Linked DNA regions of Homo sapiens: region 2 is linked to region 1. Evidence: fine-mapped expression QTL. Tissue or cell type: skeletal muscle. Region 1 holds a variant in brackets; the other region holds the start of a gene. All regions are shown on one strand. Distances are between the middles of the regions.

The links. PIP is the estimated chance that this variant, and not a neighbour inherited with it, causes the effect.
Region 2: it holds the start of IQSEC1, and the variant in region 1 is fine-mapped to the expression of IQSEC1 in skeletal muscle (GTEx, PIP 0.98).

What each region holds. Positions count from the first base shown.
Region 1 is chr3:12,895,549-12,901,056 of GRCh38, reverse strand. IQSEC1 (IQ motif and Sec7 domain ArfGEF 1) reads left to right here. Exons shown (of 14, transcript NM_001134382.3): 14 at 1-4,014. The coding sequence ends at 74. The region is part of intron 4 of LOC105376956 (a long non-coding RNA gene); the gene reads right to left. Among named protein-coding and RNA genes, the nearest start is that of LINC02022, 13 kb to the right of the region's middle. The variant G/TTG (reference allele first, on the strand shown) is at 2,190.
Region 2 is chr3:13,070,368-13,075,367 of GRCh38, reverse strand. It overlaps IQSEC1 (IQ motif and Sec7 domain ArfGEF 1), which reads left to right and starts at 1,939. Exons shown (of 14, transcript NM_001134382.3): 1 at 1,939-2,376. The coding sequence starts at 2,354. RefSeq lists silencers at 1,564-1,743, 1,864-2,023.

The DNA of each region.
Region 1 (5,508 bases):
ATGGGCAGCCCCCTGCCCCGCCGCCCCCCACCAGCAGCAAGGCCAAACCCAGCGGCATCAGCACAATTGTGTAGACAGCCTGGGTAGGGGTCCCAGGCTCCCTGAAACACCTGCACACCACACAGGGCACGCCCGGGGGTCGCCAGCCGCACACCAAACCCGGGGCACTTCTGTTGCCATCTCTCCCCTCTGCCCCTCACGGCCCAACCGGAGCCCCAGGAGCCCACAGGGCTGGTGTTGTGTGGAACAAAGGCCCAGATTTCATTTCTTGTTGGCACCCTGGGCTCTGCTCACCTCAGTCTGAGGGATGGGTGGGCCTCAGACACCATCAGCCTTGAAACGGTGAGCCAGCCAAGTAGTGTTGAACTGCCTCCCCCACTCCAGCTCTCAGCTCCCTGTGCCCTAATGTACATGCATATGAAAACCCAACCTAGAAAACGAAGAAATGAGATACAAAAACAGACAAAACAAACCCCAAAACTTGCTGCATTATTGCTCTTTTATTGACAATGGGCAAAAAAATAAGTAGACCTGATATGGTTGATGAAAATACGTAAGTAAACTTTATATAAATATATAAATATATAAATATATATATATATATACTGTATAGGTAGTACTTGTGTGTGAAAGGCAGGCGTTTCAGTCCACATTAGCAATACCCACCTTACAAGGAGCTCCACTTACCTAATAGGAAGACAGTACCTTAGCTGGGTGTGTGAGACAATAGACCAAACCCTAAATGCTAGGAACAAATTCAGATACTTCATATTTTCATACAAAGAAGTCCCTCTAGGACTGGCTAAAATCTTTACACAATCATTACTAACTGTGCCAAGTAACATAGCATCTAACTGTTTAAAAAGTCCAGTATTGCTTTGTATAAATCCTTATTTTATTAACAGAATACTATCATAAATAGTATTATAATGCTGTTATTTCAGGTAAGCAAATAGCTAAACTGCAGTACACTCTACAGTAGCAACTCAGGACAGCTGGTTACAAGCTGGTTGTCTTAGGACATTGGTTACACGGATTCTTAGACACTTTAATGGCTGCGATAACTGTGACTCTCCATGATCCATGTTTCTTTTATGCGCATATGATTTGACGCACACTCATTCAGAGTCCTCCGAGAGGGGCACCCATACACGGCAGAAGTGTTCATCTCCAACATGAAAGTGACCAGCTCTCATCCTCGTCTCCCCAACACCATAACGTCCTCATCCCGCCTCCAACCCACACCAGGCCGAAGCCCTCAGAGAGTGTTTTCATCAGGAACCACTCTCGAACCTGAAGGTTGACTTTAGCGTTTAGCAACCCAGGGCGGTGTGTGTGTTTCCCGTTTTGTTTTCTGAGTGGTAGCAGTGATCACCGTAATTCCATGTAGCCATGTGCTAGCAGAACCCCTGTGTCCTCACCGTGGCCCGTGTGACCCCAGCCGACGAGTGCCCGGCGGAGCCCCCGCTGCCTTCCCATGGTCCAGTGAGCTGCCAGGGCATCACATGACTCTCAGCTGTGCTCTTGTCGCTTCTGTGTTGTGGTGACACCATGCGCTCCCCAGGGCCAGACCTGCACGCGGCAGGTCTGTGCCCGAGTCACCCACGGGCCATACTTTGTAGTTTCAGCCTTTCGAGCCACTGCAGCCGTCAGTGCTGTGCTCCTAAGCCATGGGACCCGAGGACTGCCCCCCGGCGCCTGCCCAGGCGGAGGCCCTTTCAGAAAGGGCGAAGCTCACGCCTGACTCTGCGGGCCGCGGGGCCGCGTTCCCAGTGGACAGCGTGGTGAGCCGTGGCCGGACGGCAGGAGGAGAGGGGAGCCCCCTCTGGCTGTGTGTCACCTTGGCTGGCTGGCTGGCCAGGGTTTTGCCGATTTCCCTCCTCACATCCCTCCCACCCTCGGTCATATCATTGAGATCACCGTACCAGCAAATCTGCAAACCAAGCACTTTGTTAATCTCCAGAGAGAGCAAATACAGCAATCTAGAGTTTAGCCTTTTTAAAAATGTGACTTTAACCCGCCCACCTGTGTCCTCCCATTGGCGTGGCATTTCTTTGGTGTCTGCTCAGAAAGAAACAGCATGGGACCGTGTGATTGGGTCCAGGCTGGGCTGTCAGGGAAGCGCCCTGGTGTCTCCGACTCATCAATTCTCGGGTCTTTTTTAAAAGCCAGGCTCCCCAAAGCACTCT[G/TTG]TCTCGCAATTTTGAGGAGGCTGTTCCGACCTGGAAGCGTTAAACTGCTGCATGTCATCTGGCGTCAGCTGTGAGGCTGCGCTCTGCGTGTTGTGCGTTTGCAAAATGTATTGGCGTGACTGTAAACACATCGTTGAAGTAAAGCGATTACATATTGAGTATGTCAGCTTTTCTCACCCTCTTCTGTGCTGGGAGGAGAGTCTAACTGTAACCTTTAGGTTGTTCCAGAAAAGATTCAGGCCGTTTGGCACAGAATTGCTCTTTCTGAAGGGTAGCAGTAATGAATAGGAACAGACAGAAAACCCCAGGAGGGGCTTTCAGGAAACTCTCCCTCTCCATCGCCATCCTGCAAGCTCCACAGCCTCGGGCTGCCAGCCTGTGGCACTGTCCTCGGTGTGTCCTGGAGCTGTGCTGGGCAGCAGGGCCTCGCGTAAGGAACTGCTGGAACCCACTGAGCCCTTCCCGGGGTTTCCCGCCGCACTCAGTGTGTTCCTTCAGGCTAGTGAGGTTTCATTCTGTTTTATTTGCAAGCTTATCAAAAGTTTGTGGAAGATACATTGTTGGGTTCCAGAGGCTGGAGTCATGCTGCCCACATCTTGTTTGGGAAAGCAAAAGCTCCCAGTGAGCTGGTGTCCCCGTGTGTCTTTCATGGGACTGTCCCCTTTAGAGATCCCACCTGTCAGAGCCACAGCTTCGGGGTCCTGTCATCACATCCCCTGGGAGGGGAGGCAGGAGGAGGCCGAGGGCCCCAGGATGTCTGCCTGGTCCCTTCTCACTGTGAGGACGCCCTTGGCACACCTTTCTCAAGTCACACAAATTACTGCAGTTACATACAGAATTGCTGACAGGAGCAGGAGACGCTGAGGGAAACAGCTGGCAATGTGACAAAAGTCTTTTCTGGGACAACAATCAAATCATGTATTTGTATTTTTTTAAGTTTACCAATGAATTGTACAACAATGTAAAAATAAAGTTCATCCTAATATGCTGTGCACATCTTGCTTAAAAATGTCTTCAGCACCCAGTGCAGTGATCTTTCCCTCACACACTGCATGCAGCAGGAGCCTCTTGTTTTTCTTAATGAGCTGAAAAGACAGCAGATGTTCACAGCTGATGCTGGGTGTTGACTCAGCGCCACGGGAAGCTCTGTGCCCGCAGGTAAGCACGCACAGTCTTACAGTTCTCCTTGTAAAATATCATCACCCTTCCTGCCTGAGAAACGAGTACATTTGTATTTTATGTAACAACAATAGTCAAGGCAGCATTGCAACACTGAGCAGGGTGAGGTGGGGGTGCTGAGCACAGGACAAGAGGGAGGAGGCCTGCCCTCCATTCAGATGCATCTGCATCGCCCTTCTGTGTGCAGTCACATCGAGACTGCACACAGCATGCATCTCCTCTTGGAAAATATCTTTTGCCTCCGAGTTGTTTTAAGCAATTAGAATCAGGTCCTGAATCCCCAGACTGTTCAGAGACTTCAAGGGACACCTCCCTCACAAGAAGCCTGGCACCCCCACTGTGTACCTTTGAGAGGAAAGGAGTGCGTTTGTTTTCATCTGCATTCTGTTTGTCAGTGGCAACAGACTCTATCAATGTAAAACCATGGTTGTGATCATGTGGGGAAATCAAATAAATCCTTTGAAACTCTCGGATTCTCACTTTTTCTGAAAAGTCCAGAAGTTGCCCTGTTGGCCAGACCCAGATCTCCAGCTGATGAGTTTCCCCATTACTTGTTGTGACTCTGGGCACTCACTTTCCTTGAAGACATTGGACTGACTGAGGACACTGATACAAAATTTAAAATAAAGGGACACATCACAACCAATAGAAGGTTTCAAAGGTATTTATAATTTCTAGCAACTTTCAACAAGTGATGGTCCTTTCATGGAGTTAGAGGGGATGAATTCTATTAAGCGTTGAGGTACACTGATTATGACTTAGGGAAAAAAATACCCAGTGGCCCAGTCCCCAGTAAAGATGGATGATGACAGGAGTTCAGAGCAGCCTGCGTTTCCATGTTGGCTCATATCATGTACAAAAGCCAAGATGGTAAAGTCATTCTCCTGGAAGGAAGGGGCCTGTGAGGATGTAATTGGCTTCTGCGATTTCTCCTTTCCTGGCCAAACATAATTCCTGAGAACACCACTTTAAACTTTCAGTGCATGGGATAAAAGGAACTGGCAGATCTAACTAGTGGAAAACCAAACAAAAAAAAGTTAATTTTGGTGACCAAAATGAACTCTGGCCCTCCCTCCGTACAGCACATTCTGATTGAAAGATGTTCTCACAGGGGCCCCCTCTTCCAGTCTCATTCATAGCCACTACTGGCTCATCTAGACTGAAACCAGGAAACCAGCCATTTCAGTGCACACACACAAGTGCCTTGCACAATGCCTGTTTCTGCAACTGGGCGTCCATCCCTTTTACAGACTATTCAGGGGCCCTTCAAGAGAAGCTGGGTACAAAAATTCCCTGAAATACCCGGTTCTGCCTCAGGGTTTGATTTTTACTACGCAGATCTACAGCCCAGGAGCTGCTGGAGGTAGGTGAGCTAGGCCAGGGCTCCGAGGCGGTGATCTTCTGGGGATTGTGTTTGTCTCCCCCTGCCCTGAGATTGTGAGCTGCATGATCCGCCTGTGTGTGTCCAGTGACAGCCCCAGGACTGGGCTTGTCGGCATGCATCTATCTGAAAATTAATGGATGGCTGGAAGAGGCAGGGGTTCAGGTCACACCACCAGCAGCAGCTGGTGTTTGAGAATACCGATCACTGACATAATTAAAAAACGTATGGAAACCGGTTTGCTCATCCCCCCCACTTCCCTTAACACTTAAGTCTGGCTGGGAGACACCTGACTCAGACCTTGAGATCATGGTTCTTCCTCCTCCCTGGCTGCATGTGACTTCTGTGCCACCGAATCCCAGGAACATGTTTAGCTTCCCTGACCCCTCGGCAGCTGTGACTGTTCGTGCCTGCCTCCTTGAAATGCTGGTTCCCGGGCACCTCTGGGCCATGTGCCCTTTCTGCTCTCTGGAGACTCCTTCAGTCTCCTGTGCAGGCCAGTCCTCCTCCACGGAGCTCGTGTGTGGCTTAGGTCAAGTCCAAGCCCTCTTCCTCCCTTTCCCCTCTCCTGAGGCACCCTCACACAAGCCCACGGTTTCAGTCCACCTTCTCCATGCCCCTGGCTTCCACATGTCATCTCCAGCCCAGACCTCTACTCTGGGCACCCATGTCCCCTTGGTGTTTCTGACAGCCCAGCCCTGCAAGCCCTCCATGACCATGTTCTTCACCGTATAGCCCCATGCAGCGGAAACCCGGTCC
Region 2 (5,000 bases), 170 kb before region 1:
TCTGGGCTCTGCTGCTGCCTTGATGGGAGACCCCCGTATGTGGTGCAACCCATCTAAGCAGGAGTGGTAATTATGTTCACTTCGTAGGGCGCTTCTGAGAATTCACTGAGACCATGAAACAACTGGACCTGACACAAAGTGAGCCCTCCTGATGCAGTGGCTGAATTTTGATGTTATTAAAATCTTTTGAAACTCCAGTGAGGAGAGGGGTGGGGTGGGCTCTGCAACATGTTAACCCACAGAAATATGAATTCCTCACATGACTCAGGGAGGGAGGTCCGTGCTACAGGAAGATTGGTCATGCATATGGATTCACCTGGAGAGGGCAGATCGGGAAGCGTCATGCAGTTCTGTTCGATGCCTCACCTTGGCCACCTGAGGCCGCAGCTCCAACCTCTGCTCCCTACCAGGACACTGAGCTGGAAGACTGGGGTCCTAGTCCCACCTCTGCCACTCTTTGCTGTGCAACTTTAGGCAAATCGCTCACCCCCTGAGGTTCATTTCCTCCCCTGTAAAGGATGGAATGGAACTCAAGGATGCAGCATCACTCCTTCTAAATTCGGTGAGTGTGAATCTGGAGAGAATGGAAAGAGGAAGGGAAATGGCCCTGTGGGCTGCCATCCACATCCAGCCGATTCCCAGTCTCAACTACTCCCTCTCTCATTTATTCCTCCCAGTGAGGCAGCTTTCAAGCAGTCAAGAACCAAGACTCTGGAGCCAGACTGCCCGCCAGCTATGTGGCTTGGGCCAGTTGCTGAACCTCTGGCTTTAATGCGCTCCCCCGTGAAGTAGGATGATAGTATTAGGCCTCATTGGGGTTGTCTTGAGGATTACCGTGCACGGAAGAATATTATCTACATGCCTCTGAGATAGGTCTGGGATTCCTGGTTTACAGATGAGGAAGCAGAGAGGATCAGATGAACATCAGACAGGAAGAGAGAAATCTGTGTGGGAAAGGCGGGTGTGGGAGCCGAGGATGGATGTGCGCTTCTCCCCTCCACCTCCCTGTCGCACACTGCACCACGCTGGCCTCCTCTGGGCCAGTCAAATACACCAGGCTGCCTTCCGCCTCAGAGCCTTGACGCCAGCTCCTCCCCTGCTTCTTGCGTCATCCGAGTCTCAGCCACACGTGCCTCACAGAGGGCCTTCCCGACCACCCCGTCTGATGGCAGAAGCCTCCTTCCCGCCTCTCTTGGGGTCCCTGCCTCCCCTCTTCCTGCTCTCTTTTCATCCTGATCCTTATCACCACGTGCAATCCTATATCTGCACACTTACTTCCTGGCTTCCCCTTAGACTGTAAACATCATGAGGGCAGATACTTGCCCGGCACATGGAAGGTCCTCGGGAGAGGAAGAGGCACCATAGCTAGACCAGAAATTCTCCCTAGCCACGTGCAGCCCCCTTTGGGACAGGACTGGCACAAACGAGGACTGCTCTGCCATCCACCGTGCAGCTACTGGCGTGGTGCGCCCTCCTGGAACCCCGTGGTATAGCTGTTATGATCCCTTTCACAGTAGCATAATCAAGACTCCCAGGAGAGACGCGGCTTGCCAAGGTCTCATCGCCCTTCAGTGGCAGAGACAGCCTTGGAGTCGGCCGGCCTCACTCCAGGGCCAGAGCCCCGAGAGCTCCGCGGCTCGCGTGTCTCAGTGCCGAAGGCAGAAAAGCCGCCTTGGAAAGTAGTGTCATCGTAGGCTCCGCGCGGCGCGTGCATTTTAGCAACAGACTTCCAGGTTTCCAGCGCGGGCCAGGAAGGGGCCGGCGCCCCGCGCCCCGCCGGGTGTGTGACTTTGCCGCGAGGGCGCAGCCGAGCGGCCGCGCCTGATGCTGCTGTTGCCATGGCGACCAGCGCCTCGGCGATTGGTCCGGCGCGGCCGCACTACGTTGCTCCTTGGGCGCGGGGGGTGGGGGAGGCTCCGGCGCGCCCGCCCCTTCTCCGGATGCTGCGAGAGCAAACCCGGGGCAGCCTTCTCTCGACCCTCCCCTCCTCATCCCCGCGCCCCGCACCCCGGATGGACGGGAGGGAAAAACCCCAAGGTGGGCCCAGGTAGCAGCGAGGTGGACGCCCCCGCCCAGCCTGGCGACCACGGTTACTCGACGTCCTCGCTCGCTCCTGGGCACGGTGTGAGCGCGCGCTACGTGCCAGGGCCCTCCACAGCCCGCTGCTGGCGCCGCCCCCCGCTCCCGCCCCAGCCTCCCTGGAGGAGCCCGCCACCCCCGGGAATGTGACTCGCCCCGCGATTTAATTTTATTCCCCTCCACTTCTTGCCTGAGCCGCCTGCTCCTCTTGGAAACACGTTGAGCCTCCCCGCTGGAGAGGGAGCCAGAACAGGGAAGAACGGATTCACACAGGATGGCTTGCAGAAGACGCTATTTGTGAGTATATGTGGCAGGTTTCTGCCTGAAGCCAGAGGCCAGAGGGGCCCGGCTGAGCTGGGAGCTGGAGTGAGGGGCATCGTTGGGGGAGGGGCAGGTGGATGTGCAGGTGACTTGCAGAGGGAGCTGGCCACCCAGCAGGGATGCCGGCGCTCGGCCCCTGCAGCGGAGGTGTTTGTTGGTGATGACGATGAGAAAAAGGCTATTAGTCAGCAGGTCTTCAGCAGGCTGTGAAATTCCCAACTGTGAGAGCAGGTATCCCCCCTCCCAGATCCACATTCAGGGTGCCCAGACCGGCTCCTACTGTTTTGGCTTTGGTTTAGCCCATAGCCTGTTTAGGAAGAGAATCTCTGCCCAGCACGCCCATGGCCAGCCCTTCAGCCATGCCTGATAGAAGGTCGCAGGCAGGCTGAGGCAGTGGCCAGGATGCTGCGTCCTCCAAGGGCAGGTGAAGGTCCAGCCCACCGTCCCTAGCACGGAGGCATCAGTGTCCAGCTGTGTGCCCAGGTGTTCTGTGGGCTGGCAGCAGAGCGGCTGTGTGCTGGGCCTCACGCCAGCAGCAGAGGCTGTGAAAGTCTGCACGGGGCGGTGACATCACGGGCCCGGGTATTTATGGAAACCAAAGCCTGCGCTTCGGTTAGCCAGGCTTCCCAGGGGGCAGTGGGGTTCGAATGCCAGCTTCCCTCACAGCTCTCTGGGCGCTGCACTGTGCTGTTCTAGGAGGAGCAACCTTTGCCCTCCTCTGGGACCCTCGGCTGCGGGGGTTGAGGCCCAGCGTCAGGTCTCCACCTGCCTAAACTATTTGCCCAGGACCCACTCATTTGGGGCTGTGCAGTGACCTCAGACCTTAGGAGGTTAGAGAGCATGGCTGAGTCCTCTTGAGCTGGGCTCAGTCGCAAGGCTAGGAAAAGGAGGCCTGGAGCAGTATGTGGGGAGCCTTCTGGGGGCTACCCCAAGGCCTCCCTAATCGATGGAGGCCCCTTACCATGGCAGGGGCCTGTGGAACCCCTGATAGAGTGGCAGCTCCCCGTCACCTCCACTGAGGGAAAGTAAACACACCTCTGCCTCTGCTGCGTCAGCAGTGCCAGGCGGCAACCCACGGGGGATGGCGGTGGCCTCTGGTTCGGGGGATGGCGGTGGCCTCTGGTTTGGGGGATGGCAGTGGCCTCTGGTTTGGGGGATGGCAGTGGCCTCTGGTTCAGGGAATGGCAGTGGCCTCTGGTTCGGGGGATGGCGGCCTCTGGTTTGGGGGATGGCGGTGGCCTCTGGTTCGAGGGATGACGGTGGCCTCTGGTTCGCTGTGATGCTCACTTGCTTTTTTAGTGGAGAAGCTCACAGGTTGGTTTGTCGATGCGAGCAGAGCACACCAAAGTTCTCACTCCCTGTGGCAAGGCCCTCGCTGCATTTTCTGAAACAAATAGTAAATCCTTTCCCAGCGTGGAACTTCCACCCCAGTGGCTGGGAATAGGTCCTCCTGAGACAGCTGTCTCCTCCCTGCCACACCTTTGCCTGGGCCCAGGAGCCTGATGCCAGAGAAATTCTAAACTCTCAGGGCTGTTACATCGGGGAGGGGAGATGTCATGAGGATGAAATGTGACAATTCATATTCAGATTACTTGGCCCAGTGCCTGCTTGCCTCCAATGCTCAGAAATGTCATCCTCACAAAGGCCTTGTCTGGGCAGGCACTAAGAACCCCATTTTAGAGATGGGGAAACTGAGGCTCAGCACAGTTCTACTGGAACCCTGGAGTATACTAGCCTGGGGTGGGGGTTGTAGCCCAGGAGCTATACTGGAATCACTTGAGGAGCAGTTAAAGAAACAAACAAAAAAAAAAAAACAAAAAAAAACTGTGTGGGTCCCACCCCCAGACATTCTGGTTTCTAGGTTTGGGGGAGGGCTCAAGCCTCAGGATCTTTTTCATTTTCCGGATGATTTTAATGTCCAGGTGTGGTTGATGTTCCCGTGATGCAGCTATTCACTGTGGCTGCGTTGCCCAAGCCTATCCAATTGCAGTTTTGCAGGGACAATGTTCTATATGGATTCCAATACTCTTCCCTGGAGAGTCTGCTTCAATCTGTTGGGGGCCCAGCCACCTGCATTTGAACACGTGGCTCTGGTGGATTTGCTGATTCCTGGAATAAGCTCGTCTAGCCTTCCTGCCTAAGAGAGGGGCTGGCCCGAGGGGGCTTAGCGCTCACTGTCTTTCTTTTCTGTGGGTCTTTTCACTCTTCTCCAGCTCTCAGGCTCCCAGTCTGAGCATTGTGACTCCCAGGCCATCCCCGCTCTGCCACCAAACCTATTGGCACCAGAAATACCAAAGATACTTGGAGGGGGTGGCTCTGTTTGTACGCAAGGATCTTGTAACCAAGAGCAGGCCTTTCCTGAGGTTACCCTGCTGCACTTGATAAGCCTGTGTTTGCCCACCATTACTCCCCACCCAGAACCCGCGGCAGGCCCACTTCTAGGCCCAGGCTCTCCCAGCACCTGCTGCTCAGACCTTATTGTTACCCTGCCTTTCAGTGTGGAAAGGAGATGGGGTGTTGAGCATCTCTAGATGTTTAACTTTCCCAACAGTTGCACTGTAGCCACTATCAGAGCTGCCCAACTTGATTGCAAAGCGTTC